Homo sapiens: one gene and its partner. The protein of the gene in region 1 interacts with the protein of each later gene in a biochemical or structural test. Each region holds a gene or a part of one and is shown in the gene's direction. Other genes may lie near its edges. The genes, in order: DAOA and DAO.

Region 1 (16,751 bases):
GGGTCCAGTTTCATTTTTCTGCATATGGAAATCCAATTTTCCTGCAAACATTTTTTAAAGAGGATATCCTTTCCCCAATGTATGTTCTTGGCATTTTTGTCAAAAATCAGCTAGCTGTAAATATGGGGTTTTATTTCTAGATTCTCTGTTTTGTTCCATTGGTCTCTATGTGTCTTTTTATACCAACACCATGCTATTTTTGTTACTATAGCCTTGTATTTTGAAGTTAGGTAGTGTGATGCCTAAAGCTTTGTCCTTTTTGCTCAGGATAGTTTTGGCTATTTGCGCTCTTTTTTGGTTCTATACAAACTTCAGGATTTTTAAATTTTTTTCTGTGAAAAAATAATGTTATTTCGATAGGGATTACATTGAATGTGTGGATTGCTTCGGATGATACGATCATTTTAATCATATTAAGTCTCTTCATCCATGAGCATAGGATATCTTTCCATTTGTTTGCACCCTCTTCAATTTCTTTTGTCAGTGTGTTTTAGTGCAACTTGTAGGTATATTTTACCTCCTTAGTTACATTTATTCCTAGGGTTTTTTTTTTTTTTTTTTTTTGGATGGAGTCTCGCTCTGTCACCCAGGCTGCAGTGCAGTGGCACAATCTCGGCTCACTGCAAGCTCCGCCTCCCGGGTTCACGCCATTCTCCTGCCTCAGCTTCCCGAGTAGCTGGGACTACAGGCACCCGCCACCACGCCAGGCTAATATTTTTGCATTTTTAGTAGATATGGGGTTTCACTGTGTTAGCTAGGATGGTCTCTATCTCCCGACGTCGTGATCCGCCCGCCTCAGCCTCCCTAAGTACTGGGATTACAGGCATGAGCCACCGTGCTTGGCCGGGTTTGTTTGTTTGTTTGTTTGTTGCAGCTATTTTAAAGAGAATCTCCAAACAACCTGTTGAATGGGAGAAAATATTTGCAAGCTATTCATCTGACAGGTGACTAATATCCAGAAAATACAAGGGACTCAAATAGCTCAACTGTAAGAAAACAAACAAACAAACAAACAAACAAACAAAAAACAACCTCACAAATCTCACAAATAATCCTATTAAAAAGTAGGCAAAGGACATGAGAGGACATGAGTAGACATTTCTCAAAAAAAGGCATACAAATGGCATAACCACCAAGTATATAAAAAAGATGCTCAACATCACTAACTATCAGGGAATTGTGAATCAAAACCACTATGTGATATCACCTTACCCCAGTAGAATGGCTATTACTAAAAAAAACAAAAAAATGACAGATACTGGTGAGGGTACAGGGAAAAAGGAGCTTTTATACACTGTTGGTGGAAATGTAAATTAGTACAGCCATTATGAACAAATACTATGGAGATTTCTGAGCAAAATTAAAAATAGAAGTACCATATGATCCAGAAATTCGACTACCAGGTATTTATCCAAAGGAAAATAAATCGGTGTTCCAAAGGGAGACCAGCACTGGCATATTTACTGTAGCACTATTCACCATTGCAAAGATATAGCATCAACCTATATCTCCATCAATTAACAAATAGATAAGCAAAATGGAATACTAATTGTGCACAAAAACATTGAAATTATGTCATTTGCAGCAACATAAATGGAACTGGAGGTCACTATGTTAAGTGAAATAAGCCAGACACAGAAAGACAAACACCACATGTTATCACTCATACATGGGAATTAAAAATGTTGATCTCATGTAGGTAGACAGTAGAATGATAGATGCCAGAGGCTGGGAAGTGTGTATGGCTGAGAGTGGGGAATGAAGAAAAGATGATCAATGGGTGCAAACATAGAGTTAGTTGGAAGCTATAAGTTCTTTTTTTTTTTTTTTTTCTTTGAGACAGACTTTTGCTCTTGTCACCCAGGCTGGAGTGCAATGACCCAATCTGGGCTCACTACAACATCCACCTCCCAGGTTCAAGCAATTCTCCTGCCTCAGCCTCCTGAGTAGTTAGGATTACAGGTGCCCACCACCACGCCCAGCTGATTTTTGTAGTTTTACAAATACAAACATTTCACCATGTTGGCCAGGCTGGTTTTGAACGCCTGACCTCAGGTGACCCGCCCACCTCGGCCTCCCAAAGTGCTGGGATTACAGGTGTGAGCCACCACACCTGGCTGGAAAGTATTTTAAGTTCTAATGTTCAATGGCAGAATAGAGTGACTATAGTTAACAACAATGTATTGTATATTTCAAAGTAGCGAGAAGAGAGAATGTGAAATGTTCTTAAAACATAAAAATGCTAAATACTGAAGGGGATATATATCCCCAAAACCGTGATGATAATTACACCTTCTATGCATGTAACAAAATATCACATGTACTCCATAAATATGTAAAATATTCCGTATCAATAAAAAAATGAAATGATATAGGTAAAAGAAAGAAAATAGGCTGGGCGCAGTGGCTCACGTCCCAGCACTTTGGGAGGCCGAGATGGGCAGATCACGAGGTCAGGAGATCAAGACCATCCTGGCTAACACAGTGAAACCCTATCTCTACTAAAAAAATACAAAAAGCTAGCCAGGCGTGGTGGCACACACCTGTAGTCCCAGCTACTCGGGAGGCTGAGGCAGGAGAATCACTCGAACCTAGGAGACAGAGGTTGCAGTGAGCTGAGACTGTGCCACTGCACTCCAGCCTGGGTGACAGAGTGAGACTCCATCTCAAAAAAAAAAAAAAAGAAAGAAAGAAAGAGAAAGAAAGAAAGAAAATAAATGTATAAACTCAACGCTCAAAAAGTTGTGTGATCTCAGTTTCTTCATTTCAAATATTGTATTAAAATATTTTCATATACAAACATATTATTTACCATTTATCTCCTAAATTTGATACGTTAAACTCTCCAATTTTAGTCTTTTTTTTTCTTTTTTTTTTTTTTTTTATTTTGAGACGAAATCTCGCTCTTGTTCTCCAGGCTGGAGTGCAATGGTGCAATCTCAGCTCACTGCAAACTCTGCCTCCCAGGTTCAAGGGATTCTCCTGCCTCAGCCTCCTGAGTAGCTGGGATTACAGGCGCCTGCAACCTCACCTGGCTAATTTTTGTATTTTCAGTAGAGACGGGGTTTTCACCATGTTGGCCAGGCTGGTATCGAACTCCTGATCCACCCACTTTGGCCTCCCAAAGTGCTGGGATTACAGGCATGAGCCACCGTGCCCGGTCTCCAATTGTAGTCTTTAAAGACTTACTTGTAATATACTTCCCAGCTGAATAACAGGGAGAGTTTAAACCAAATTCCTACCAGTAAATATTTTTCTAATATAATAAAATGGCATAGCATTTCTTAACTAAAATATAAACAGATCCTATTTGAGCACAAAAGGGGAGAGCATATCATTCAGTATATTGATTAGATATTGCAGAGATTTTAGTAAAATTGAAGTTTATTAACAATATATACAAAATGTCAACTTGAAATACATTTAAATGAGATGTACTTTCACTTAGATAAAAATGATGTTTCTTGCACCCCAAACAGCATTTACTCTGTTGTAGTGGTTATTGATTTCATCATCGGTGCTGGTCAGTTACATTATGACTATAGCTGAGTTATGGCAACTAATAAAATAACCATAATTGAGAAACAATGAGCTTTCCAGATACTCAGTGAGATGCTTCCTCTTGGCAAAACAGACAATATTTTCCGGGTTTGGCTGCACTATTCTTTGTGTTTAGGTATTGACTTTCTGATAATCCTAACTTGGCCTTGCTTACTAACAAGGAAAAGTATCATTTGCCATTTTAATGTAATGGGGTTGGGGGAAGAAGAGAAAACTACTATTAAAAGCAGACCTCATCAGACTGCAATAAAATATAAACTACTAAAAGTCTGACTATCTGATAACCAAAGGCGTAAAATAATCTTTTAACATTTTTACTTTGTTTACATAGACATGAAAGTGTTTTAAAACCATACTGCCATGCAGAGCTGATGTTCATTCTGATTCGTCAGTCTCCCACGATATTTGGTTGGTACTTATTCCTGTTCCAGGTGTTAAATGTCTGGAATAGCATTCCTGCTTTGAAATATTTTTCAAAGTGTAAGAAGCAAAACAACAAATAGGGTGTTGTTACCCCACTTCTTCCCCCCAGCTCCCCCTTCCTCACACAGTTCATGCCACATGCCACTCTCCTGGACTACTGGAAATGCGTCAGTCCACTCTGGGCTCATCCCATCATCCCCCATGCTGCAACCTGAGAGAGAGTTGCAAGTTGCAAATCTGATCTTGTCACCACCACTCTCCACACTAAATCCCTCTAATGCCTCCCCCTTTCTTTTTGGATAAATTCCTTCTGCTTGCATAGCCACGTGGTTGGCTTCTATAGCATCACTTCACACTGTGGTCACCTGCCTTCTCCTCACTCAGGAACTTCTCTCCATTGAAGAAGTTCTTCTTCCCCATCTCCAGGGCTTTCCCACTGACAGTTGTATCTCCCCCATACCAAGCCCAGGTGGTCATCTCATCCCACAATTGTCTTTCAATCCCATCAACAATTATTTGGAAAGGCTTCCTTGATCCCCGAATTTAAGCCAGCTCTCTTGATGTAGGTGTCTTTCCTTCAGAATAATTATTTACATTTGAATCAAGTATATATTAATTAATGTAATTATTTCACTATTATCATTTTCCCACATAGGATTGTAAGCTGTATGTGAGCAGGGTTCTTGAAACCTGTAAATCGTTTTGATCATCACTATAAACTCAAAGCCTAGGACAGTGATTGCATGGGATAAATACTTAATATGTTGTATCAAATAACAAATGTTTGCCCTTCTGTAAGCAGAGTAAACTCTGCTTATAAGTTTTGTAACCTCTTAATTAATTATATTTTTCATTATAAGTGCTGACTCTTGTTACAAACACATTTTAAGTTTGACATTATTGGTTGATTTATTCAGTTAAATGTATTAATTCTGAAACTTATTTAAAAATCAGAAAAACGATGATAACATTTATAAATAACCGATGAGTCATAAAGACAGAGTGGTATCAAGGGAATATCCCTCCCTGCAAAAAAAAGCAAGCAAACAAATAAAACTACATTTATCAGGTTTTCTATAAAGAGGTTTGTATTTAAATCAAATTTTAAATTATGATAAAATGCATTTTGAAGTGTTAAACAGAAATCCAAATATAGGTGATATTTTCAATGCTCCTCAACTACAAAATTTAATTTTAGAGATGGCTAACCATCTATGAAGTGTTATTGGATGAGCATGGTAACAATATTATGAAATAGAGTTTTTCTCACTTAAAATCCCAAAAGGAGCCCTGAACAAGTCATTTTAGAAAAGAAAAAAAAATACTGAATAATATTTTCACAAGCGTTAAATTAGATATTAAGTATAAATGAAACTTCAAACATGTAACATATTAAAGTAACTTTTGTTATTTAAGCATTACCAATAAAATTTCAAAATTATTCTTACTTTAGATTTTAGAAGAATTAAGTAAAAGAGATCAGCCAGGAGTTCTGTGTAACTTTGAGTAAGTTAAATTTCATCTGTAGTTTCCATGTCCAAAATAGAAATTTGAAAGATCCAACAGACCTTAAGACACACATCTTCAAATGGAAAAATTGTTGCTATTTGTTTAACATTTGGTAAGATTTCAAAGTATTGTTTTTTATTACTTCTAAGTAGGAAAGATTCCATCCAAACTTTGAAATGTCCTTTGCCCTTATATATGAAAATGTGCACTCATGTGCATTCATGAAGGGGAGAGAAATGATCAATGCTCTAATTAGAGCTGGCACCAAACCTGGCGTAGGCAGCTGCTGTGAGCTTTGTCATTACAATTTTGACGTGACATATGATTTGCGAAATACTGGGAGCATTAGAAGGCTGCCCCATCTAGGCTCCATCATGCTCAGCTCCAGACACTACCCCCACCAAAAAAAATCACATAATACCACATAAAATTATTCACTTCCAACCTCTTCCATCACTTGGTTACTCCATACAACCTCAATAGATTCTCCAGAACCTGATCAATTTTGAGATACTATTTGTCAATCTAAAGTGGTCAAGAACATTATGGCTACAATCCCTTGCTGTTCAGTTACTTTTTTGTATTCAGACAATTTTTCAAAAGAATGACCTCTCTTAAAAGGTTATGTTTTATAAAAAGTCACTTGAAAGAGGGATAAAATTTTCTATCTCAAAATGTTCCTCTGCAATTATAAGCAGCAAAACATGGAGAGACACAGGTCTTTATACTGACTTTAGACTCATTCTGTTTAGATAACTGTATCACAGAAGTATTAGATCAACAAAGGTTCAAATCATTTCTTCACTAAGTTTCACTCTCCCATCAAAATCCAATGCTCAGCTCTCAAAGTCAGCAGGAGATTTCAGTGTAAGCAGAGCAATGATTTCTGTGCCTACAGGTTGTCTTTCCTAAGAGAAGAAAAAAATGGTAACTATTAATCAATAGAAAATCCAACACCAGTGGAACAAATGTGTGCTTGCTAAAGCAGCATTTTCAGAACCCACATTGAATCTTCAGCATGGAAACAAAGTGCCTGTGCCTGGAGGCTCCTCCAGACCTTTTGCATCCCTAGAATCTTGTGGAGCTATAATCTCTTTTCCATAAATCTCAATTCCAGAAGGTCTTTATTCCTGAAATTATGTTACAATCTCTTTAAAACCAGATTTGGAGAGATGGTATGTGGAAATGTTTCAATGAATCCTTGGCTATGTTTACATTTGTTATGAATGTTCCCTATCTTTGATATTTAATACACAAATGGAATTTATTTCCACACATTTGGCTGGCTTAAGTCTGGGCAGAAACATTACAAGTGTGAGCTTAAGGGAACTATTGCGTTAAAAATGTTATTTGTAACATTTTTGTGTAGACTCTCATGAAGAGGATGTGTAGTCTATTTGTGGAAGAAGAAGGTGGTGAATATATGCATAAATCAATAAGTAGACAGATACAGAAATGGCTAGATGCTCACTAAAGCACTGTTCATCTTGGGAGGAAGTAGCAACAAATTAAATTACTAGCCACTTACGAGTGATTAATTTATACACTGAAATATTATATACCCATTTAAAGAAATGAATGAATCTGTGTACAACGATATGAAACAAATACATATAGGCCCAGAGAGAGACCTGCCCATATGTTGCATCAGCATAGACAAGCGTTTAACACAATATACATCACTACTTAATTTCAGAGAGTAAGATAATATTAGAATCTATTAGTAATATTCAAATTTGTTTTTAAGAGTATATTATAACCATTTAAAAATAATGAAGGAAAAAAGAGGAACGTGCTATGTCAAGGACAGCTTGTATATTATACAAGCACAGACCAGGGGAACAGGGAATCTAAAAAGTCAAGGTAGCAGGTGGGAGGGAGAGCCCTACACACAAGAAAAGAAAGAGACTCGCCCACTGAAGTTTCACTTGACCTGGTCTTGCTGCATTTATAGTGTACAATTGGACAATGTAGTTAAAATATTCCCTTAAAATGAGAAGATACAACCTTTATAATACATAAAAGATCAAGTCCACTACCATGCGTTAGCTGATTAGCAAATAACACTGCCAAAAGTAAAAATAAAAATAATGGATAATAGCAGTAATAATAACGTGTTTTTTTTTTCCTCACTTAAACTGGCTTCCAGTCATTGAAAAATACTCTGTTTGTCTTTGGTGTTGGTAACAAAATACTAATATTTTCTGAATAATTATCTTTTTTATAATATTTCTTATGTTTTTCTTTAACATTTAATGTTTTTATTCTTTTCTTAAGGGAAAATGCCTGTGGACTTTAAAAGTCAAGAACTTCAGATAAATATCTATTTTTTACATCTCAGTTTTAATCATATCTTTTCACTGGTTTTTTGACTGCTGGCATTTATATTTGCTTTTTGCCTAGAATAATTGCTTCTTATTTAAAACCCTCTGAATTTCTAAATTGAAATATTGGATTACTCCTCACAATGAGGGTTTGGAATTTTCTTCAAGATGCACATTTTTCTTTCTTTAACCTTTAAGGAAACGAGTTGAAGCACGTCATGGTATGTATTTCTACAGCAACCACTTTGCTTCTGCAATTTCAGACACTTTACACTGTCTTTCAAGAATAAATACCATTTGAGAAAGAGTGGCGGGGGTAGCACATCTCTCCAGCCTCAAACTATTCCTTCCTCAGGGCAGAATTTCCCCGTGACGCTCTCTTGTCATCATCACCTTCTTCTTGTCTGAACTCATCAACATTTCAGCCAAATTACTGTGCTGCTAAGTCACTGGGAAGATCAGGACCCCACACCAAGATGATCATCTTAGAGATGCACAAAACCCTAGAATGGGTAAGGAGAGATCAAATATTTCAGATAGGAAAGTGGGATATTTGTCTAGATAGGTGGCCTAAACGTCTACTCTGATCAGGAAAACTACCTTAAGCAGAATCAATCAAAATAATGCCTTAATAATGAATCAAAAAGTGAATGCCAAAGTATCTGCCTTTAGTCAATTTGAGTGTAGCAAATGAAATATGACTTAAAACAGGGTCAATCTTGAATGCAAAATATGGACTTTCTGAACACACACAAATGTTTCCATAAATATATAAAATGTATTTGTATTTCATAGACAACTAAGGTACAATTTAAACTACGTTTGTTTTTGCAAACTCCTAAATTTCATTATCTGCCATTCATTAAGAAAAGGAGGCGAAAGAAAAAAAAAAACTTTAAACACTAATGTATAATTTCAATTTTGTTTTAGGCAACTGTGTAAATGGCATTTTTTTTGGCATATTTGTATAACACAATAAATGTGTAGCCCACAGCCAAGGGGATTGCATAAAATTTCCCCTGGCATAGCTACTATTTCCAATCCAATCATGCTCAAGAGAATATCTTATCTGCTTTGTATACACACACATACACACACACACACACACACATCTTCAACATTTGTTAACATTAACATTCATTTTGTTTCCTGTTATGCATGTGTATATGTGCTTTTATTTAATAATGTTAGTTAACATTTCCTTTTTCTGTAAATAATGATAGTATAATTTGAAAAGTCTGGCTCAATTCCCAGACTTAGGTCAAGCTAATATACGAATATATTTAGTCCAGTTTACTGTTTTATTGGACTTTGATGTTGAGTTATGTTTTTTGAAAGAGTATTTTTATACTGCAAGTTCCAAAAAAGATCCTAAAAAAGACAAAGCCTTGTTTTCTTTTTATCTTTAACTGTAATAAGAAGTTGGATCTAATTTCGAAACTCCCACAATTTGCTGCACATATATTTTGGATTATGTGGGAGGCTAAAATTATATTGAGCATGAGGAATTGTTCCTATCTTATTTTCTGGCATAAAATCATGTTTTTCTTTATTGTTTTTGTATGTCTCAGAACTTCAGAAAAAGGAAAAGCATGCATCCAAAATAAAGAAAAAGTAATTATAAATTTACAACATCACAAGTGAACACAACCTACTTCTCGTAGTATTTTTGGTTTGGATATATTGCTAAATAGCATCATCATTCTCTTAGACATGAGGTTGAAAATTTCTGGGTTACTGTTGACTTCTTTCTTATTCTTACTTTTTTAAGTCCTTTTGTTTATTTTTATTCTTTCTGTTATCACAGATCCTACTCATTTTTGTCCCTCTGTAACTATTATCTAAATACATTTAAGAGATTCTTAATTGTCTTTTATAATTTACCTTCTTTCCTCTCCAAGCTATTATTAATTTTGAAGCCAAAACAATCTCAATCAAAATATTTACTTCATTTTAATGATTTCTCATTGTCTAGTGTGTTGAGTTTCAGGAAGAATGCCGGTGTCCTCTCTATTCTGGCTATACCTTAAAATTACTTCAGTGATTTTTAAATACACCAGTCTCTGGACCATAACCTCGAGACTCTGATTCATTATGCAAGAGTGGACATGGGTCTTTGAATTTCTAACAAATGTTATTGTGTTTTAATTGTGCTAAGAAAACCCTGCTCTGGCAACCTAATAAAGTAGCCTGCTAATAACAGGTACTCAATAAATATTTGTGGAACAAATGAATTATTGATTCTTTGTATGAACAGTTCATTCTCAAGCAAACACCTGAACATCAACCTCTCCCACCCCACACCCCTTTTGAAATATTCTTCATAAAACTTCCTACTGTATGAAAGTATCTTCTGTGTGTGAATTTTTACAGTCTGCATCACCACATGGAATGTGAGATCCCTGAGAAAGGAGACTTTGTTTGTTTTGTTCCCCACAGTGCCTCAGTGTCTGAAATAGCACCTGGTAAATCATAGGGACTTCTGAAATACTTTCTGAATGGATAAATGAGTGGTAGGAAAAGTGTGAACATGGTAGATAAAAGAGAAGTCACCACTAGAACACCAAGTTCCTGACATACAGTTTCAAGGTCCAGCAACATAGTTGCTACGAACTAGCTGCCTTTAAAGTTCTCTAGATCAACTATATAGATTAGCAAGTCTTTTAACTAAGCATTAAGCAGAGTACTGCTCTGAGATTTAGCACCTCAGTCTTTTAGGTCCCTAAAGACTCCGGATTGGTTCCAGAGGTGGACTGTCAAATAGGAGGACTTTCTGCAGTAATGGAAATGGTCTATGTCAGTGCTGTCCAACATGGTAGCCAAGTGTGTGTGGTTATTGAGTACTTGAAATATGGCTAGTGGCACTGAGGAACTAAAGTTTTAATTTTAATTAGTTTAAGTAGCCTTAGGTTGCTAGGGGTTACCATATTGGATATTGCAGTTCTAGAGTTATTCTTCTCTCCTCATATTCAAAATTATCTTATGATGCTATCATAATTGAAAGATTAGCCAGGGACCCTATCATGGCTATGGCAGTCATGTCCTGTGAAAAATTCCATTAATGACCTCCACGTTTTATGATGTGTAGAGCAAAATCTCAGTCTCCCTGAGTAAGGCCTGCTCCATGTGGACACCTGGCTTTCTCCCTTGTCTACCTCCCTCAGTGGAGAGTCCACCTGCTGGTAGTGCACTCCTTAGGTGCCTGTCTCTGGCTGTCCTGTGCCACCTGCACAGAGTCATGCATGAGCTCCACTGTGGGAAGTCTCTAGAGATGAGCTGAGCTTACCCTACACCAACTGAAAGAGTCTATCTAAGTCCTGAAGATCACAAGTCATCCTCATATTCCCATGAATGTGAATGGAAGTTGGGCCTGCTCAGAGAATCATCAGGGCTCTTTATTGTGGCCTGGAGCCAACTGCCAAGGAGTGCCTAGGAACACACTCAGTAAGAGTGTTGCCCTCAGGCCAGATCAGACTTGAACCTGCAGAGAAATCCCCTAGGTATGTCAGCAATTGCTCATTTGGATGCTATAAACTTGAAGTTGTGAAAAATATAAAGACTTACATTATCCAGTCTCTCCTGGCAAAATATGTAGGTTTAATCATTCCTGAATTTTCCTTAGTTCACACAGATATACAAATATATATCCTAAAAATTGGCATTGGTAGGCGTGTCAAGTTATCATTTTAAAAACATAGAAACCTGAACAAGATGTATCACTCCAGTCTAGAATGTCTATATGCAGAGTATCCACAAAAAACCAAACTTCAACAGTCTTTCATGTCTATATTTCTTCAACATTCTTTGTCTTCAACATTCTTTCATGTCTAGAATGTCTATATGCAGAGTATCCACAAAAGACCCAAACTTCTTTCATTTAAAGAACCAAACTTCTTTAAATAAAAATGACTCACAATAATTTAATATTTTACCATTTACAAAGAGATTAACTACAACAATATTGATCTTGAGTTAATTTCCCACGAATAACATTTTCATTTCTTAAAATTTGCTGAATGGAAAGCCAGAAAGTAGAGTGAAGCAAGTAATGTGTGTGTGAGTAGTCATTGGATACATACATAACAGTGAGCAAGTTTATCAGCTCCTGCATGGCAGTGTTCTGATGATCTTTTGCTGCAAAAGAGCTACACCCCAAATTAGTGGCTTAAAGTAAAAGCTTACTAGTGTATATGATGATTCTGTTGGTCCAGGATTTGGAAAGGGCATGGCAGGAGGTCTCATCTCTGCTTCACAATGCCGATGATTTAGCTGGGAGGACCCAAAATGCTGGAAAAGCTGATGGGTGCTGATTCTCTCCAGCTTTTCAGGTAGGTAGCTTGGGGTTTTTTACAGCATGGCGGCCTCAGTGCAATGTGACATTTGCATGGCAGCACAGAGCTCCCAGGGTGAATGTTCCTGGAGACAGGAAGTGGAACATGTCAGGGTTGGAAGCCTGAGCCCAGTATATGGTTCAGCCTTACTTTCTCCCATATTCTGTCAGTCAAAGGAGAACCTAGCCAAGGATCACTCATGTTAATGAGGAGGAGACATAGGCCCTCACCTATCCCTGGGAGGAGGATCAAAGAGTTTGAATCTTTAATCCACAGCAGGCAGACAGCTTTCCATTGTTATAAACCACCTCCCCCTCACTCCATCTGCCTGTGCTAATTGTTTGCTCACAGGAATTTGTTTAGCACTGTGTAGAACTGGGATAACTTTGTGCTTATTTTGCAGTTAAAAGGGAGAGGCGCTAGTTTGGAGATTTTTAAAAAGCAAAGGTTTGAGAGCCAGTAAGACCTGGAGTGAACTCTCCTGTCAGCTATTTACCAACTGTATGACTGAGCAATTTATAAAAAAAAAATGCAAACCTCAATATCTTCATCTATAAAAATAAAAAAATAAGACGTATTTGGCTGAATAGTTAAGATTAAAAATATGAAAGTGCTAAACCATACATGTTATATGCTCCATTGATGTTGCTTATTCTTTCTCTCTTCTGCAGGGTATAAAGGAATCTGAACACGACTGATATTTTCTTTAATTTTTAGATCCAGATATACATTGGGTAAAATCTACTTCATAGGTTTTCAAAGGAGCATTCTTCTGAGCAAATCTGAAAACTCTCTAAACTCTATTGGTATGTTACTCTTTATCTTTATATGAATTTAAATTCTTCTAGAAGTTAGATAAAACTGTGGTAAAGCTACATAATACTTTTGACATATTTTCAAGCGTAGACAAACTTCAATTAATTTGTAAGATACAGGAAGAAAATTTTTCCAGTTAAAATGTACCTCTTGGTTTCTGGAGTGTTAGCAACCATTCACACTTACAGTTCAAACAGTGCAACCTTGTAAAACATATATAACTTATGAAGAGATCGATATCTCTTTTTATAAAGCAAACAAGTAAATTTTTCCCTCAATCCATGATTTATTTTTGTGAAGTGGGAATTTAAGGCAGTAGTTCTGCTTTCAAGTGAAAACCTGGATCAACTTTTAAATATCTATAGGCGCAAACCCAAGCTAGGTCTCACACAGTGCCTCACTTAATAATCTGTCAACGTTTAATTCTTTTTCTTTTTTTTTTTTTTTTCTGGAGACAGGGTCTCACTATGTTGCCCAGGCTGGAGTGCAGCAGCGCCTCGGCCTCCCCAAGTGCTAGGATTACAGGTGTCAGCCACAACACCCAGCCCATTAATGTTTAATCCCCTAGAAGGTGATCCTTTTTTTTTTTTTTTTTTCAAAGAGACAAATTGCAGCTCCTTCTCTGGGCTTTTCTACACTATAGCAGATAACTTAAAATCTGACATGCCAAGATATAGCCTTGTCTTAGTTTTCTATCACTGCTATAACAAATAAGCACAAATTTAGTGGTGAAAAAAACAAGCACATTCATTATTTCATAGTTCTCATCAGGCTGACAGACATCTTACCTGGCTAAAAGCAAGGAATGGGCAGGGCTGCATGCCTTCTGGAGGCTCCAGGGCTGAGTCCATTCTCTTGCCTGCCCCAGCTTCTGGAGGCCTCCTGCATGCCTTGGCTCGTGGCCTGCCCTCTGTCTTTAGAGTCAGCAATGTTGCTTCTCTGACCACTCTTCTTCCAGCATCCCCCTCTCTAAGCACAGCAGGGAGACCTTCACTGATTATAAAGATGCCTGTGACTACCTTGGACCCACCAGGATAACCGAGGTCACTCTCCACCTCCCGGTCGTTAACATTAATTACATCTATGAAGTCCCTTTGTTACACAAGATTCCACAGGTTTTCAGGATTAAGAACTGGACATTTTTGGGGGGTGGAGCAAAGAAGTTTCTGCCTACCACAGCCCTTGATAGCATAATTAAAACATTGATTTTCATAAGGTTTTCCTAAACTGAATTTTATTTTGCCTCAAAGGTGCAGATGGTCAGTCTTTGAGTGCCAAGTTTAGATGCTCATCTTACTTTTAATTTCTGACCAAGATTGATGATTACTTGAATATGTTGGCTACCCAAGTAATTTTATTTACTTTTATTAAAGAGGATAATTATATTTCAATTAATAGATTCTCTTTAACAACAATTAAAAAATTACAAATGTTAGCTGAGAGTGACAGATATGAAATGAATTTAAAAAGTCTAATCAATGCCTGGTGGAATAATTTGAGAAGCAAAATAATTAGAAACAATTTTCATTGAAAGGCATGCAGTATGTTAATTTCTTCCACTTAGCCTTCAACAAAGCTAAGAATGTTGGAAGGAAAACAAGCTTATTGTCTTCTAATGATGGCCATGCCTTGGAACACTATTCCCTTCAGAGATTTGTCTCTGGTTTGTGGAATCACAGTAAAATATTATGAAAATAATTGTGGGTAAACAGGGAGAAGCCAGACATGAAAAGAAGCGAGATCTTGGAGCATATATCTATTTGCGTGCTAGTCTTGTTAGCTGTAAATAGACATGAACATGAAATGTGGGAATAGCAGAATAATTTTTCCAAGTGCATATTTTTTATCAAATCAATCTTTACTTTAAAAATTAGTGTAAAATTAAGAAGACAGCAGACATCAGTATGTTTCAGCATGTATATAAGCAGAAGTAGACAAGGCATCTACATTTTCTACAGGTAGGAGAGAGTTATCATCTCATTAGATAGTTAAGTACCATACCATAGGGTTCAATAATATTCATACTAGGCAGAACACTAAATTCAAAGTAGCTGGAGGGCAGAATTTTCCTTATGTTCTCTTATCACCATCCACACTGTCTTAACCACCTAGGTGTGTACCGTTAGTTCCTGGCTGCATTTTCTCCTCTTCAACTTGCAAATTTTTCCTGTATTAAAACTAATTCTGCTCTGTCATATTTTATTTGGGCTTTATTTTCTAATAATGACAATGAGTGTAAAAGAAATTCACATTATCCAATCCTATTTTATTTCTTTCAGGTATTCACCAAATCCACAAAAATGTAAGGCCCAAAAATAATGTACCAGTGGTGAAAATTTTAAACATTTCTGACACATAGATGAAGGGGATATATATTTTATGAAGTAATGAGCTTATTATAGGGGACTGAGTTTGATACTTTCTCTGCCTTCACATCGTTGTGAGAGTTTACAGATTTTACAAACTCAAGGTTATAAACTACTTTCCAATTATCGTTTCCCTACTCTGAAATAATTAAAGTAAATTCAAATGGTCTTTTTGGTAGCATTCCTTCTTTCTGTCATAGCACTAATAAAAGCCCTAAATTTGTCAAGAAAAAGAAAATGGTATCAAGCTGAATTTTGTGATGTGTGGGGAACCAACTGAAGGATATTTTTCTAGCAATTGTCTAATTTACTTTCATCATATTTCCAAACTTTCCAAAGCAATATTTAATATTCTGACAGTTGTGTTTTCTCAGTCTCTATTGAATGCAAAGAGAATCACTCTATGTCTTTTTTTATTCCATATTGAGGGCTATTTTTAGTTTTTTATTTCTTGGATGATTTCTTATTGGCTTTTACAATAAATTCCAGCTAATGGATTTTTACTTGGTTAATCTTCCTAACCAAAATTTGATCTACTTTTTTTTTGTCCCCAGGCTGGACATGTTTCTTTACTGGATTAATCATCTTGCTCATTGGAATTTTTTTTTTTTTTTGCAAGAAGAGACTAGAGTTATATTCTTGTTATATATCTAACCAGAATAAACTATCAAGATTAAAAATAACTGCTTAAGGAATAACAAACATAATTTCTAATATATAGCAGCTATCTTTGTTATGTATTAAGCACACTGTCCTCATATAAAATGCTATTCTTTTCCAGTTTTGGGGAAACTGGAATTTCTCTGTGTAGCCATGCTGGCAACTTGTCTCACTTTCCTTTTTCTTTTTTACCCCCATGGCTAATAATTTTAAAATGCCCTGATACCATGCCTTTTTTATCATTCTCATTTTTAAGCCAACTAACAAAATGCCAAACAACACACTCATTAACATTATCTACTATTTATTACATATTTATAAATTATAGAAGCTAGACGGTAAAAGCACAATTATTTTAGAAATTCTACATACATAAAATAAAGCAGCTCACCCATGTACACCCAACCAAAATATTCTATTTTTATTTATTTGTTTATTTTAAATTATTTTGAGACAGAGTCTTGCTCCGTTGCCCAGGCTGGAGTGCAGTGGTGCCATCTGGGCTCACTGCAACCTCTGCGTCCTGGGTTCAAGCAATTCTCCTGCCTCAGCCTCCCAAGCAGCTGAGACTACAGGCACACACCACCACAACTAGCTAATTTGTTTTCTTTTCTTTTTTCTTTTTTCTTTTTTGATGGAGTCACGCTCTGTGGCCCAGGCTCGAGTGCAGTGACACGATCTCAGCTCACTGCAAGCTCCGCCTCCCGGGTTCATGCCATTCTCCTGCCTCAACCTCCCGAGTAGCTGGGACTACAGGCGCC
Region 2 (16,148 bases), on another chromosome or scaffold:
ATGGGGAGAAGGAAGGATGCAAAATTTAAGGAGGCTGTCACTCTCAGGGCCATGTAAGTACAAAGTGGGCATATGAGGGTAAGTGCCTCCTTAAATGTGTAAATTGCTAGAGCCCTGCTGGATGGCAGTCTGGCAAAATGGATCAATATTTTAAATGTACAAACCCTGGCACAATGATTCCATTTTTAGGAACTGACCTTATGGAAACGATCAGGCAAGTGTGCCAAGAAACACATCTAGGATGTTTTTAATGTCGACAAATTAGAAATGACAGGTAAATTCAACCCTACGGACTGACTTTAAAAATTGTTACATCTGGCTGGGCATGGTGGCTCACGCCTGTAATCCCAGCATTTTGGGAGACCAACATGGGAGGATCGCTTGAGCCCAGGAGTTCAAGACCAGTCTGGGCAACATAGGGAGACCCCGTCGCTACAAAAAAAAAAAAAAGTAAAAATTAGCCAGGTTGGTGGTGCATGCCTGTAGTTCTAACTACTCAGGAGGCTGAGGAGGGAGGATCACTTGAGCCCTAGAGGTCAAGACTACAGTGAACTGTGATTGCGCCACTGTACTCCAGCCTGGGCAATAGAGTGAGGCCCTGTCTCAAAAAAGAAAAAAAAATGTTACATCCAGGTACATTGGCATCCTGTGTAAAAAGGATGCCATCCTGTAGTCCCAGCTGCTTGGGAGGCTGAGGCAGGAGAATCGTTTGAGCCCAGGAATTCGAGGCTTCAGTGAGCTATGTTCACACCACTGCACTTCAGCCTAGGCAACAGAGCAAGACTTTGTCAATAAATTAAAAGAAAAATAAAAAGTACGTCACTGTTCTATAGTGGTCGTGGAAAGAGGCTCAGGGTATGCCATATTGGTACAAGTGAACAGAGGAACCAACATATGTCACATGATACTATTTTTGCCACCTGCCCGTGTTTATGTTCACATTTGGAAATATTTGCCCAAAGTAATGGTCCCTATTTCCTGGTGGTGGGATTAATTGCAGGGGATTCTTACTTTCTTCTTTATGCCTGCTGCATAAATACTTGAAATCCTTAAATACTGCTTAATACTTGAAAAAGTGATTAAAGCTAATTTTGTCTGAGAAAGAGAGTGGGAGTTAACCTGTTATTCTGTAACTTCCTGGCCCCACCAGGGTTGACTCCTGCAGAGCATTCTCCAGGTAAATGTTTTTGCCCTGGCCTGACTGTATTTCAGAACTACCAGGAGGTCGTTTTGTTTATCAACCACCCAGTGGGGTCAAAAAGACCCTTAACTTCTACAATTCCAGCCAAATAAACAGAAGTTGCTTTCGAAAGTCTAGGGCCTCCCATTACTAGGATCAGTGAGTTTAGGACTTCAGGGTAGTGGAAAGGGCCTTGGTCCCACAGAGCTGTCTCAGGGCACTTAAATTTCCCTAAGTGTAAAATGGACAGCTTCAACCGTATCAGTGTTTCTCACCTTTCTCTTTTCTTTTCTTTTGAGACAGGGTCTTGCTCTGTTACCCAGGCTGGAGTGCAATGGCAAGATCTCAGCTCAGTGCCGCCTCAACCACCCAGGCTAATCAATCCTTCTACCTCAGCCTCCCAAGTAACTGGGACTACAGGCCTGTGCCACCATGCTTGGCTAATTTTTTGTAGAGATGGGGTTTCATCATGTTGCCCAGGCTGGTATCAAACGCCTGGGCTCAAGAGATCCTCCTGCCCCAGCCTCTCAAAGTGCTGCGATTACAGGCGTGAGCCACTGTGCCTGGCTTTTTCTTAAACTCACTCTCCTTTTTAATAAAGATAAAATTCTTACACCCTTCCTAGTGGGTACCTTTCTCCTTATTCCAATAGCCGAGAAGATACTGTGGAACTTTACTTTCTGTAGATTATATCACGAAAACAATAGTTGTCCCCCAAGCTCATTTTCCAAAATTAAATAATAATTCTAAGTATGCTTGTTTGTACACAGTACAGGACTTTCTGAAGCCACAGGCCACCTCCAGTCCTGGTCACTGATGCCTGGGGTCCTTCTCTGGCTCTCAATTAAAAGCTATAGTGTAGTGACTGAGTACCCCAGTTCTGGACACAACCTGGGTGAGGGTCGCCAGGTAAAATACAGGGCGTTCTGGGGAGGTGGCCCACGCCTGTAATCCTAGCACTTTGGGAGGCCAAAGTGGGAGGATCAGGAGTTCAAGACCAGCCTGGCCAACATGGCAAACAATGTCTATACTAAAAATAAAAAAATTAGCCTGGTGCAGTGGCACATGCCTATAATGCCAGCTACTTGGGAGGCTGAGGCACAAGAATCACTTGAACCAGGGAGGCGGAGTTTGCAGTGAGCCAAGACCACGCCACTGCACTCCAGCCTGGGCAACAGAGCGAGACCCTATCTCAAAAAAAAAAAAAATATAGATACACACACACACACACACACACACACACACACACACACACACACACACATATGGTGTCCTGGAATCTATTTCCTAGATCTGGCAACCCTAACCTAGTTCACATTTGGGCCTCTGCTTCCAGGCAGTGTGACTATAAGCACAGTCTGTCTTTCCTTTTTTCTTTGTCTCACCCTCTTTCTTCTTCTTTCCTTCTTCCCTCCTTGCCTGCCTGCTTTCTCCTTCTTTCATTTTTCTTCCTCCCTTTCCTCCCCTCCACTCCCTCCTCCTTCCTTCCTTTATTCCTTACTTCCTCTCTCCTTTTCTCTCTCTCTTTCTTCCCTAATTGTGTCAAGTGCATCAATCTTAATTTTAAATATGCAGCTTGATGAATTTTTACATATGCATAAACTCCTGCAACCACTACCCAGATTAAGGAGCACGTTTCCAGCATCCCAGGAAATTTTCTCATGCCTCTTGCTGGTCAGTATCTCCCCCAGAGGTAACCACTCTTCTCACAGCCTGTTATTGTCAATTAATTTTGTATGTTCTTGAATTTCATAAAAGTGGAAGTATGCAATATGAGCTCTTAAGTGTCTGGCTGCTTCTTCTTAACCTAATGACTGAGATTCATTCAGGTTGCTATATATAACAGTATTTTCCCTTTTCATTGCTGTATAATATTCCATTGTGTGAATTTTTTTTTGGAGGGGGGAGTTTTGTTTCCTGAAAACACCACAATTTGTTTATCCATCCTCTGTCTCATAGATATTTGGTTGTTTCCAGTTTGGGGTGTAAATTCAAAATAAAATCCTAAGGGTCCACTAAATGAACACCCTTCTTGGCAAAGGGAACCCCAGAAAAACTTTAAAAACTTTGTTTCCAGCCATGATGAGACAGGAGGTCAGGCACACCACATTACACTCCCTTCCTTCCTTTTGTGGTTTAGATACAAGAAAAGATCAGCATCAATGCTAAAATAGAGGGCTGAGTATGGTGACTCACACCTGTAATCCCAGTCCCCTGGGAGACTGAGGAAGGCAGATCACTTGAGGCCAGAAGTTCGAGACCAGCCTGGGCAACATGGTGAAACTCTGTCTCTACAAAATAAAATAAAATAAAATAAAATAATTAGCCAGGCACGGTGGTGCGTGTCTGTGGTCCCAGCTACTGGGGAGGCTGAGGTGAGAGGATCGCTTGAGCCCAGGAAGCAGAGGCTGCAGTGAGTCATGATCTTTCCACTGCACTCCAGCATGGGTAATAGAGTGAGACTCTGTCTCAAAAAAAAAAAAAAAAGAGAGAGAGATTATAAGACTGACAGAACAGACTTTTTGTGGCAATAAGATACCAAATTATAAACACAGCCTAAGGCCATGTCAGGCAAGGGTTAAGTCAGGTGCCCCTACTCTTAAGGAATAAACTATGTTCTAATTATGTTACAAGATTTTTCTTTTTCTCTAGCAGCGAAACAAGCACTGGCCTCAGAAGAAGCAATATTAAAACAGTTACAACTCATCTAGCACACAGACACCCAACTGACACCCTGTTCCTCCAGTCATAACAACAACTACAGCTTTGATTGAACAAGAGACTGAGTTTGGTAACTTTCTCCTAATAAAAAGATCACTGACTATGGACTGCTTCTGGTGGGGTTACGAAACCGCAACCTCATGTGCCTGCATTTCCTGAAAAGACATTTTGATGTGTAGGTTCTAATTGTAATACATTGATTGATTGATTGATCAATTGATTGATTGAGATAGGGTCTTACTCTGTTGCCCAGGCTGGAGTGCAGTGGCACGATCACAACTCACTGCAACCTCTGCCTCCTGGGCTCAAGCAATCCTCCCACCTCAGCCTCCCAAGTAGCTGGGACTACAGGTGCACGCAACTGCGCCCGGCTACTTTTTGTATTTTTTGTAGAGACAGGGGTTTCGCCATGTTGCCCAAGCTGGTCTCAAACTCCTGGGCTCAAGCGATCCACCCACCTTGGACTCCAAAAGTGCTAGTATTATAGGCATGAGCCACCATGGCTGGCCTAATTGTAATACATTTAAATGTTAAGTCTCCACCCCAAAGTGAACATGGGTTGTATGTTACATGCACATTTGTTCATACACATGTGTTGGGGCCACCTTCATAAATATTCATAGCTTCTCCTGTAACCTGCTGGATATATCATTCAGCCAACCCCTTCAGCACAAAGCTCCTAACCCAACCCCTCCTCCTTCAAAGTGCCCGTCTCTGTTCTTGGTAGGAGGCATACTTCCCAGGCCATGGACTGGTCACCTTGTGGGCTATAACCCCTTATAAGAAATAAGATTTCTTCTCCTCTCTGAATTTACACATTTGTGATTTTTTTTTTTTTTTTTTTTTTAGTTAACAGGGGCTATGAACATTCTTACAGAAGCCTTTTGATTGATGTGTGTTTTCATTTATCTTGGGTATATATATAGGCGTGGGCATGATAGATATTAGGATAGCCATCTTTAACTTCAGTGGATGCTGGAGCAAGTTTCTGAATTTCAACTCTGAAGTGGGGATGATAATAACAGCACCTGCCTTACAGGGCTGTTTCGAGATTCAAAGAGAAAATCTGGGTAAGGCAGGGTGCGGTGGCTCACGCCTATAATCCCACCACTTTGGGAGGCCAAGGTGGGCAGATCACCTGAGGTCAGGAGTTCAAGACCAGCCTGGCCAACATGGTGAAACCCTGTCTCTACTAAAAATAGAAAAACAATGAGCCAGGTGAGGTGGTATGTGCCTGTAAACCCAGCCACTCGGGAGTCTGAGGCAGGAGAATTGCTTGAATCTGGGAGGCAGATGTTGCAGTGAGTTGAGATGGCACCACTGCACTCCAGCCTGGGCGACAGAGTGAGACTCTGTCTCAGAAAAAAATAAAAAAGAAAAAAAGAAAATCCAGGTATTTAGAATTGGTACACCGCAATTTACAAAACGTAAATTATTGCTGTGATGGCAGTGGGGAGCATGAAGATATTGGACTAACTTTTATGAATGTTCAAGTGCTCCCATGATGAATTAAACACACAGGGAACTTTATAAGGGCCATATGTTATATAAGTGATACATGACTATTGTATTAAAATTCAAACTAGTTAGATATAAAGTAAAAAGTGGGTTTCACCCTATCCATTTTTTATTATTGAAGAAAAAAAAATATGTCATAGCGTGGTGGCTTATGCCTGTAATCCCAACCCTTTGGGAGGTCGGGGTGGGATGATTGCTTGAGGCCAGGAGTTTGAGACCAGCTTGGGCAAAATAGCAAGACCCTGTCTTTACAAAAAGTAAGTAATTTGGCTGGGTGTTATGGCATGCATCTGTAGTCCTGGCTAGGCTGAAGCAGAAGGATTGCTTGAGCGCAGGAGTTCAAGGCGCCACTGCACTCTGGCCTGGGTGACAGAGTGAGATCCTCTCTCTCTCTCTCTCTCTTTTTTTTTTTTTTTTTTTTGTTTTTTGAGACTGGGTCTCACTCTGTCACCCAGGCTAGAGTGCAGTGGCTTGATCTTGGTTCACTGCAAGCTCCGCCTCCCAGTTCAAGTGATTCTCTTGCCTCAGCCTCCCGAGTAGCTGAGATTACGGACATGTGCCACCACGGCCGGCTAATTTTTGTATTTTTAGTAGAGATAGGGTTTCACCAACATGTTAGCCAGGCTGGTCTCAAACGCCTAACCTCAAGTGATCCATCCACCTCGGCCTCCCAAAGTGCTGCGATTACAGGCAAGAGCCACTGCGCCTGGCCTGACCCTGTCTGTTATCTTTTCTTTTTCTTTTTTTTTGTTTTCTTTTTTTTTTTTAGACAGAGTATCGCTCTGTAGCCCAGGCTGGAGTGTGCAGTGGTGCCATCTTGGCTCACTGCTACCTCCACCCACCAGGTTCAAGCAATTCTCCTGCCTCAGCCTCCTGTGTAGCCAGGATTACAGGCACACCCCACCACTCCTGGCTGATTTTTTGTAATTTTAGTAGAGACGGGGTTTCGCCATGTTGGCCAGGCTGGTCTCGAACTCCTGACCTCAGGTGATCCACCCACCATGGCCTCCCAAAGTGTCAGAATTACAGGTGTGAGGCACTGTGCCCAGCCGACCCTCTTTTAAAAAAGGAAAAAATACTATGCAGTGAGTATTTTGCATGCATTTTCTTATTTCATCTTCGTCTTTTTATTTGATGATACTAAAGGCAGGTGTTAGAGGCTGGATTGCTAAAGCTGACCCAAAGAATGCCTCCCTCAGGGCTGGTTGGTCCCTCTCTCTCAGGCCTCAGTCTTCCCATCTGTACAGTGAGGTGCCTGCAGATCTCTGGGCTCTAAAAATCACAGCTCCATGTTTATCCCTGGCAGAGGAAGGGCCTGGAGTCCTGCTGCTTGCGTCTCTGGGATACGGGAGCAAAGAGCCACGCATCCTCATGGCCCACACAGGCGTCACCTCCAGTCTCTCCTTGGCCTCATCTCCCCAGCGTCCTGGAATGGCATCGGGCTGGCCCAGGGAGCCCCTGTCCTGTGCCTCTCCTTTCCCCTCAGGGGCTGCCAGGCTGACCACCCCCACCGCAGGCCAGGCCTACAGTGCCCCATGGAACGTCCTGACCCTCCCCCAGGGTGGCAGCAGGAAGAAGGAAGAAAGGGGATCCTCTCCAGCTGGCCAGAGAGACAGACCTTCTTGTGCTCATCAACCCTCCAAGAATGCCTGCCCTCCCTCCTTCCCCCAAGGCCTGTCCACAGGGGCTTGAGATCAGCCAGAAAAGTCAGGCAACTTTTCAGGGACTGGGAGCGAGGTCTCCCGGCCGGGCCTGGGTCCAGTCTCTGTGGGCAGTGCAGTGCCGAGCCCCACCCCTCAAGCCGTGCCCTGTCCATAGCTCCAGACTTTGACCCTGCACTCCAGTCCGGGCTGGCGGACAGAGGGCTGGAAACAAGACGCTCCAGAATCAGGAGCTTCCCCTCAGGAAATAGCATCCTGTGTCCCCGCACTGCAGTTGTCTGGTCTCTCCAGCAGTTTGGTACTTCCGGTGAGTGGCAGATGCACCTTTGAGCTGGGGACAGGGGTTGGGAGAGGGGAGAGGCAAAGGATTTCATGTCCTCCCAATGTCAAAGACAGGGCTCAACATTACAGCCTAAGGCAGGTGACAGGAAAGGAGAGATCCAGCCTCTCAAACATCCAGCAGAGAGACCATAGGTAAGTGATTTTTCCCTCCCCAAGCCTCAGTTTCTTCACCTGGAACATGGGGATCATAACTCCCCTCTTACAGCGTGAGTCTGAGTGTTAAAAGAGGTGGTGCATGTAAAGTGCTTAGAGCAGATCTAGGCACATAGCAAGTACTCAAATGGTAGTTATTATTATTTTTGGTGGGGGAGTTGGTAGGCTGGTTCTCAAACTTTTATAGCTTCTGTTCCATTTCAAGGATAAACTCTGCAAATAACTTCATGAGAAGTAGCCGTGTGGTGCAACCAGGGAGAACTAATTATGTTCATTCAAATGCCTCATCTCTGGCTTACTGATTTTTTTTTTTAAAAAGAAGTCTTTCATATTCTTTGCTATGGGCACATAGCAATCAAAGGCATCAGCTGTCTCAGATTGCCTTCTAGGGGACAAGGGAGGTCCTAGGCAGATAAATGCAAGACTGAAAGACAAGCAGAAAGCATCAAGTGGCAACTGCATGCCAACTGCCTAAATATTTTTTTGGAGCAGTGCAGAAAGCGCCGATAGAACTGGGTCTAGGTCCGAATGCTGTCCCATACTGACTGCGTAACCTTGGGTGGGTGACTTCTCCTCCCTAAACCTCAGTCCCAGCCTCCAGAATGAGGGCGGTAACCTTCCCTACTTCCTAGAGCAGTTGAGAGGATTGAGAGGATTATGTCGGTACTGCATCTACAGGTGTCTGGCAAGTGGCAGAGACCAAAATACATTGGTTCCCTTCCTGCTCCACACTTACACAGACATTCTAATCACACACACACACACACACACACACACACACACACAAATATAATAATCCCAGCTGTTTGCATCTTCTGGGATACATACTCCAAGCTTGCTGGGTTGAAGTAATGATGTAAAACAGAGGAGAACGGCAACACTAATAAAAACATCAGCAACAACACGAAAATGTCCAACCGAATAACTGAGCTGGGTGCGTTTAAGTCCAAAAGCTCATTACCTACACGCATGAATGATTTTACCTAAGGCTGGATCTGCCACATCTGACAATCTGTCTCTGGCTTGTCATGAGGACCTCATGCATTTATTTTGTATTTTAAAACACACACACACACACACACACACACACACACACACGTTGCTATAATCAGTGTCAACTTTGACTCATATCTTGAATTTTTTTAAAAAAAGATAATTGACTTAGGACTCACACTTTTTTCCTTTTAAATTTTTTTTTTTTTTTTTTTTTTGACAGAGTTTCACTCTTGTCACCTGGGCTGGAGTGCAATGGCATGATTTCTGCCCACTGCAATCTCCACCTCCCAGGTTCAAGGGATTCTCCTGCCTCGGCCTCCCGAGTAGCTGGAATTTCAGGCGTGCACCACCATGCCAAGCTAATTTTTTTGTATTTTTGTAGAGACAGGGTTTCACCATATTGGCCAGGCTGGTCTTGAACTCCCGACCTCAAGTGATCTGCCAGCCTCGACCTCCCAAAGTGCTGGAATTAAAGACGTGAGCCACTGTGCCCGGCCTTTTTGATTTTCCATTCTATTCCTACCAACACTCTAAAAATTCCTACAGGCATTTTATTTTATTTTATTTTATCTTATTTTATATTATATTTTATGTTTGAAATGCAGGACTCTGAAGCTTCAGCTGTTCCTATTTACCGGCTTGATTCTCAGATTTTTCAAACCATGTGATTTACTGGCAAGCATGGCATTTAAGCACCTAGGCTTATGAGTCAGGCTGGCCTGGGCTCTGCCTCTCACCACCTGGGTGTCCAGGAGCTGATATTCCAGTGAGGAGACAATAAGGCAAGGAGCTTTGTCAGCTCTCATAAAAGTTTATAGATGAGGTCGGGCATGGTGGCTCACGCCTGTAATCCTAGCACTTTGAGAGTCTGAGGCCAGCAAATCACCTGAGGTCAGAAGTTTGAGACCAGCCTGGCCAACATGGTGAAACCTTGTCTCTACTAAAAATACAAAAATTAGCCAGGCATGTTGGTGCATGCCTGTAATCCCAGCTACTCAGGAGGCTGAGGCAGGAGAATCACCTGAACCCGGGAGGCAGAGTCTGCAGTGAGCCAAGATTGTACCATTGCACTCCAGCCTGGGCGACAAGAGTGAAACTCTGTCTCGAAAAAATAAAGTTTATAGATGAGGAAACTGAGGTTCGATTAGGATTAACCAACTCATCCTGGTTTGCCTGGGACTCTGATGCACTGACTTTTAGTCTGAAAGTCTGCATCCTGGGAGGACCCTCAGCCCTGGGCAAGCTGGGGAGGTTGGTCACCCTCACTCAGTCAAGTTGAGCAACTTGCCCAGGGTTACATGGCTGGTGTGTGCCCAAGTCAGGCTGCGAACCTGGGTCTGTCTGACTCTCAGCCTGGGCCATACTGTCTCTTAGATTCTTCATGGAGAATTAGGAAAAATACAGAAAGCCCTTTATTCCTCTGCCTTCTCATTGTTAACATATAAAAATGGTCAAGCGGGCGGGTGCAGTGGCACACACCTGAAAGCCCAGCGCTTTGGGAGGCTGAGGGGGGAGGATTGCTTGAGCCTAGGAATTGGAGGTGGCAGTGAGCTATGATTGTGCCACTGCACTCCAGCCTGGGTGACAGAGTGAGACCTTGTCTCTTAAAAAAAAGAAAAAGAGTGGTCAGCTCTCCGGAAATTATGCAGACAGTCAAAAAGCCCAGAGAGGGGAATTAACTTAGCCAAGGTCGCACAGCAAGGCAGAAGTGAAGCCAGGTCTGACTCTGCCTTTCTCTTCTCCTCTTTTTTTTTTTGAGGCAGAATTTCGCTCTGTTGCCCAGACTGGAATGCAGTGGTGCGAACTCGACTCGCTGCAACCTCTGCTGCCCAGGTTCAAGCGATTCTCCTGCCTCAGCCTCCCGAGTAGCTGGGATTACAGGCGCCTGCCACCGCGCCTGGCTAATTTTTGTAGTTTTCAGTAGAGATGGGGTTTCACCATCTTGGCCAGACTGGTCTTGAAGTCCTGACCTCGTGATCCACCCGCCTCGGCCTCCCGAGGTATTGGGATTACAGGCGTAAGCCACTGCAGCTGGTCCTCCCTCTCTCCTTTTGTTCCTGCAATGTCTTTGTTCTATGTGATTTTTCAAAATGCTAGGAGACAGGAAGGAGGCTGCTGTGTGTTGAGGGCCTACTCTGTGCCAGGCGTGGTACCAAGAACTTTTGCTAAACTTCTTATTTAATCCTTAAAATGACCCTGTGAGATTGGGATTAACCCTGTTTTGCAGATGAAGAGCTTGTGTCTCCAGAGGCAAAGTATGGGGGAAGAGGGAAGAGAGAAGACCAAGGGTCCCTGAGAGGGGCTGTCCCCTAAGCCCCAGTATCCAAGCTCGGGCTCGAAGCTGGAAGGAGAATTGCCTAGAGGAACGATACCTTTCTGTTTGTTGGTTCTATCTCCAACTTGGCTTCTGAAACCCCAACAGAGTCCAGTTCTTGTGGGCTGGAGCCGTTTTCCCTCCTTTATAAAACTAGGCCATATTAAGAATGTCCCGCTGTCCAGGGCCACAGGCCCGAGTTGCCAGGAGCTGAGGTCTGCGGGAGGAGAGTTGTGAGTGAAGATGAGGGAAAGTTGAATTTGGCTCTTCTGGGCACAAATAATTCTCTTGTTCTGCCTCAGCAGGAGCCTGCAGAATATTTCCCTGCTGTGCGGGCTTAAGTAGCTTCAAGGTTAAAAGCTGGTAGGCCTTCTAAACTTCTCAGGGCCCAATCAGCCCTGTGCCCCAAGGCAGGTGGAGTTCTGTGCTGGAAGACCAAGTTCTGAGGCCAGACACTGCGTCTGTCATGCTCATAGCTGCATTTGCTAGCTGCCAGCCTGGCACATGGTAGGTGTGCATTAAGCGTGTGTTGAGTTTACTCAAATTGAAATTAAGTCACAGCTGTACCATTTAACTGGCTGTGTGACTTCAGGTAAGTCACATCACCTCTCTGAACCACAGTTTCCTCCTCTGTAAGACGGGACTGATAACAGCAGCCCCTACCTCATGACAGTGTTGGGAGACTTGGATGAATGGATGCTTGTGAAGCACTTAGTGCCGGGGCCAGCTGGCTCACAGTAGGTGCTCCACAAATGTCAGTATATTACTTCTTTTGCATCAGGCAGCTTGTTAAATTTGTTACGTTTGGCATCTTGTTCAATTTCCCATCCATCCCCTCAAGCATAGGTTATTAGAGGTTGAAGCATCTTGCCCAAAGTTAACGGCCAGTAGGTGGCAGAGCTGAGTCCTGAAGCCAGAGCCCATCGCACTAACCACCGGCCTACCCAGCCTACAGTTGGTCGTGCCCTCTGCTGGGTCTTTTCTATTCCCAGCCCAGAAACTGGGTGTCTGGGGACGCTCCCCAGAGAAAGTTGCATCATTCACCAGCCGTGTGACTGTGGCCAAGTCTCGGTCACTTCTCCATACCTCAGTGTTTCCATTTGCAAAACGGGAACAATGATATTCCTTCCTCCTAGGGGTCATCGGGAAGGTCAAATATAAAAAGGGCTTGGTGGTGTCTGGCACCTTCTAAGCCTTCAGTGGATGGTGGCAATGGCGCTAAGGATGATGGAGATGATGGTGATGATGTTGTGCCTCAACCCTTCCTTCCCACAGGCTGCTGCAATGCGTGTGGTGGTGATTGGAGCAGGAGTCATCGGGCTGTCCACCGCCCTCTGCATCCATGAGCGCTACCACTCAGTCCTGCAGCCACTGGACATAAAGGTCTACGCGGACCGCTTCACCCCACTCACCACCACCGACGTGGCTGCCGGCCTCTGGCAGCCCTACCTTTCTGACCCCAACAACCCACAGGAGGCGTGAGTGAGGGTCACATAGGGTAGCCTGGGGTGCCCATGGACCTAAGTCTGCAGAGGGAGTCAGGGTTCCCATCACCAAGAGCAAGCCCCTTGTGGAAGCTCTGATCTAGCATAAAATAAAGAAAATGCCAGGCGTGGTGGTTCACGCCTTTAATCCTAGCACTTTGGGAGGTCGAGGTGGGAGGATCACTTGAGGCCAGGAGTTCCAGATCAGCCTGGGCAACGTGGTGAAACCCCATCTCTACCAAAAATACAAAAAATTAGCCGGGCATGGTGGCGCACACCTGTAATCCCAGCTACTCGGGAGGCTGAGGCAGGAAAACCATTTGAGCCTAGGAGGTGAAGGTGGCAGTGAGCTGAGATTCCGCCACTGCACTCGTGACAGAGTGAGACTCTGTTTCAAAAAGAAAAAAATAAAGAAAAGATTCATAAATATTAAGCCCCTTGCTCTGTGCCAGATACTAGGAGGCTTTGTCTCGTCTTCCCTAAACTGGGTGCCTGTCAATACCACATGATTGGTGAATCTGGAAAACTTCCTCTGTTTTAATTTATACATTTTTATTTATTTTTTGAGATTGTGTTTCACTCTTGTCGCCCAGACTGGAGTGCAATGGCGTGATCCTGGCTCACTGCATCCTCTGCCTCCCAGGTTCAAGCGATTCTCCTGCCTCAGCTTCCCAAGTAACTGGGATTACAGGCATCTGCCACCACGCCTGGCTAATTTTTGTATTTTTAGTAGAGATGGAGTTTCATGTTGGCCAGACTGGTCTCGAACTCCTGACCTCAAGTGATCTGCCCACCTTGACCTCCCAAAGTGCTGGGATTACAGGCATGAGCCATCATGCCTTGCCAAATTTTATCTTTTTAAATAGAGATAGGGTCTCACTATGTTGCCCGGGCTGGTCTTGAACTCCTGGGCTCAAGTGATCTGCCCTCCTTGGCCTCCCAAAGTGCTGGAATTACAGGCATGAGCCATCATGCCTTGCCAAATTTTATCTTTTTAAATAGAGATAGGGTCTCACTATGTTACCCGGGCTGGTCTTGAACTCCTGGGCTCAAGTGATCTGCCCTCCTTGGCCTCCCAAAGTGCTGGGATTACAGGTGTGAGCCCTTGCACCCAGCTGAATCTAGAAAACTTCTAAGTGGGTGAACATCTAAGTGGGTGGATGGATGCACAGATTTATCAAATAAATTGCAAAGGTCATTATGGTAGTTTAGAAACTGCCAGATGGTTCAGCAAATGGAACACCCAATGAATAGCAGCTCAAACAGATTAAAAAAAAATTTTTAAGAGGCATCCTGTCACCCAGGCTGAAGTGCAGTGACATGATCATAGCTCATTGCAGCCTTGACCTCCTGGGCTCAAGTGATCCTCCCACCTCAGCCTCCCAAGTAGCGAGGACACACATGCATGCTATCATGCCTGGATAATTTTCTTTATTTTTTGTAGAGCCAGGGTCTTCCTATGTTACCCAGGCTTGTCTCAAACTCCTGACCTCAAGTGACCCTCCTGCCTCAGCCTCCTGAAGAGCTGGGATTATAGGCATGAGCCACTGCAACCAGCCAGAATTTTAATTCACACAGCTGTAAAAAACCAATGATTCTGATCAGTGGGCAGTGATTCGGGGCCCAGGCTCCTTCCATCTAATGGCTCTGCCGTTTTTCCACGTGCTTTTGAGGTCACCTCAATGTCACCATTCACATGGGCTGGTGACTGCAGAAGGATCATGCAGGACCACACGTGCAGAGTCTTTAGAGTCCCTTGGCCAGAAACAAGTCACACAGTCACATTTAGCTGCGAGAGGGTCTAGGAAATGTAGGTGAGCTGTGTGCCCAGGGGGAGGAGGAAAAGTTGTAGGAGCGGCAAGTCGATGTCTGCCACCAGTGTTTACAAGGAGGGGTGCTTGCAGCCAGACTGAACAGTGTGGCTCATAATCCCCAAAGCCAGGTCAAGGACTTCACTGAAACTCATCAGCCATGTAATCCCATGCTGGAGGTGCACTCCATATGGTTATGATGGGGCATCCTTCATTCCCTCTCTTCTTTATTCTATTAATGGGGAAATATTGGAAAATTTAGGAGGGAGAAGACCCAAGGCATTTGGGGAGTTGCAGGAGTGAACGTGGTGGATTTCTGGGTTTTGGACACACCCCAAGCTCCTGATCATGCCACAGCCCCATGCCAGCTGACCTAAGGTTTTTTGCCCAGCTCAGGGCATTGGGTGATCGAACTCTTCATGACCCTTCCAGGGACTGGAGCCAACAGACCTTTGACTATCTCCTGAGCCATGTCCATTCTCCCAACGCTGAAAACCTGGGCCTGTTCCTAATCTCGGGCTACAACCTCTTCCATGAAGCCATTCCGGTGGGTGAACAGTTCTTGACCATGAGGGATGAGCACCCAGGGCTGGGGTAGTGAGGGTGGGTGCAGCAGAGCCTTAATCACAGATGAGGGCGGGGTGCTTTGAGTCTCGTAGGCAACAGACTCCTGGGTTCAAAACAGGTTTGGTTTAAATTCTATTTTTGCTTTGAAAATTATTTTTGTTTTACATTTTGCTGTTAAATTGGCAGAGGACAAAGAATCTTCTGATGCCCAGGGGAAACTAGCCTTTGATTAGCATGGCTAAAATACAAACATGTTCTGCAGTGACGGGCACTTGGTGCTGAAGCCAAAAGGTTTCAAGTGCCCCTGAAGGTCCCAAGGCTTTTTATCAAGAAGGAATAAAATACTCATCAAAGCAAAAACTGCCAAAGCATTTATTATGTGCCAGGTCCAGTCCTAACTAATTTACAGCTAGCGACTAATTTAATTCTCTTTATAACCGGGAGGTAAGGGCTGTCCTTATCCTCACTTAATAAATGAGAAAACGGAGGCTCCAAGAAATGGAGTAACTTGCCCAAGGCCACAGAGCTCGCCAGTGGCAGAGCTGGGATTTGAACCCAGGCCATCTGTGACTCCATGGTGTCCAGTGTGCTAACAGGAACAGCACAGCCCTGGGACGGTTTGCTCAGGCTCCTTGGAGAGGGTGGTCTGGCGCTGTGCCCAGAGCCCCGTGCCAGCTCTCAAGGTTCATTCAACCTTTGGCACTGTGCTAAGGGCTTTATCCACATTATCTGTTACCTTTCATGGGACCAAGAGTATTTTTTTTTTTTTGAGACAGGGTCTCACTGTATTGCCCAGGCTGGAGTGCATTGGCATGATCTCGGCTCACTGCAACCTCTGCTTCCTGGGTTCAAGCCATTCTCCTGTCTCAGCCTCCTGAGTAATTGGGATTACAGGTGCGCACTACCACGCCTGGCTAATTTTTGTATTTTTAAGAGATGGGGTTTCACTATGACGGCCGGGCTGGTCTCGAACTCCTGACCTCAAGTGATCTGCCTGCCTTGGCCTCCCAAAGTGCTGGGATTACAGGCGTGAACCACTGCACCCGGCCAAGAGTGATTATTAACTCCATGATACAGACAAGGAAACTGAGTCTCAGAGAATTCAAGTAGCAAGTGATGAGGCTGGGGTCTCTGACACTATGCTCTGTTGTCTGACACTATGCTCTGTTGCTTTCTCTCATCCCCGGGGACTCTCACTGTTTCTGCTTTCTCTCCCCTATTTCTGACTTTTCCCCTATAACTCACCCTCGGTCTTACTCTTACCCTTACCATAAATAGGGGTTAAGAACATGAACTCTGGAACTAAGCTGTATGGGTTAAAATCCCAACACCACCATTTATTAGCTGTGTAATCTTAGACAAGTTATTTAATCTTTCTAAGCCTCAATTGGTCCATCTGTA

Evidence for each region.
Region 2: the proteins of DAOA (region 1) and DAO form a complex in vitro, tested with the Homo sapiens proteins (one study listed by BioGRID).

Annotation. Positions count from the first base shown.
Region 1 is NC_000013.11:105,454,188-105,470,938, forward strand, and holds the start of DAOA (D-amino acid oxidase regulator), read left to right. Parts: upstream 1-11,857; 5' UTR 11,858-11,873; exon of another isoform or gene 11,874-12,028; 5' UTR 12,029-12,101; coding exon 12,102-12,145; exon of another isoform or gene 12,146-12,233; intron 12,234-12,819; exon of another isoform or gene 12,820-12,865; coding exon 12,866-12,954; intron 12,955-16,751. UniProt on the Homo sapiens protein: May suppress DAO (D-amino acid oxidase) and SOD1 activity and promote their degradation. Has conversely also been suggested to function as a DAO activator. May stimulate the degradation of DDO (D-aspartate oxidase). May play a role in mitochondrial fission.
Region 2 is NC_000012.12:108,872,838-108,888,985, forward strand, and holds the start of DAO (D-amino-acid oxidase), read left to right. Parts: upstream 1-7,254; 5' UTR 7,255-7,387; intron 7,388-7,472; exon of another isoform or gene 7,473-7,554; intron 7,555-12,160; 5' UTR 12,161-12,169; coding exon 12,170-12,363; intron 12,364-14,612; coding exon 14,613-14,727; intron 14,728-16,148. UniProt on the Homo sapiens protein: Catalyzes the oxidative deamination of D-amino acids with broad substrate specificity. Required to catabolize D-amino acids synthesized endogenously, of gastrointestinal bacterial origin or obtained from the diet, and to use these as nutrients.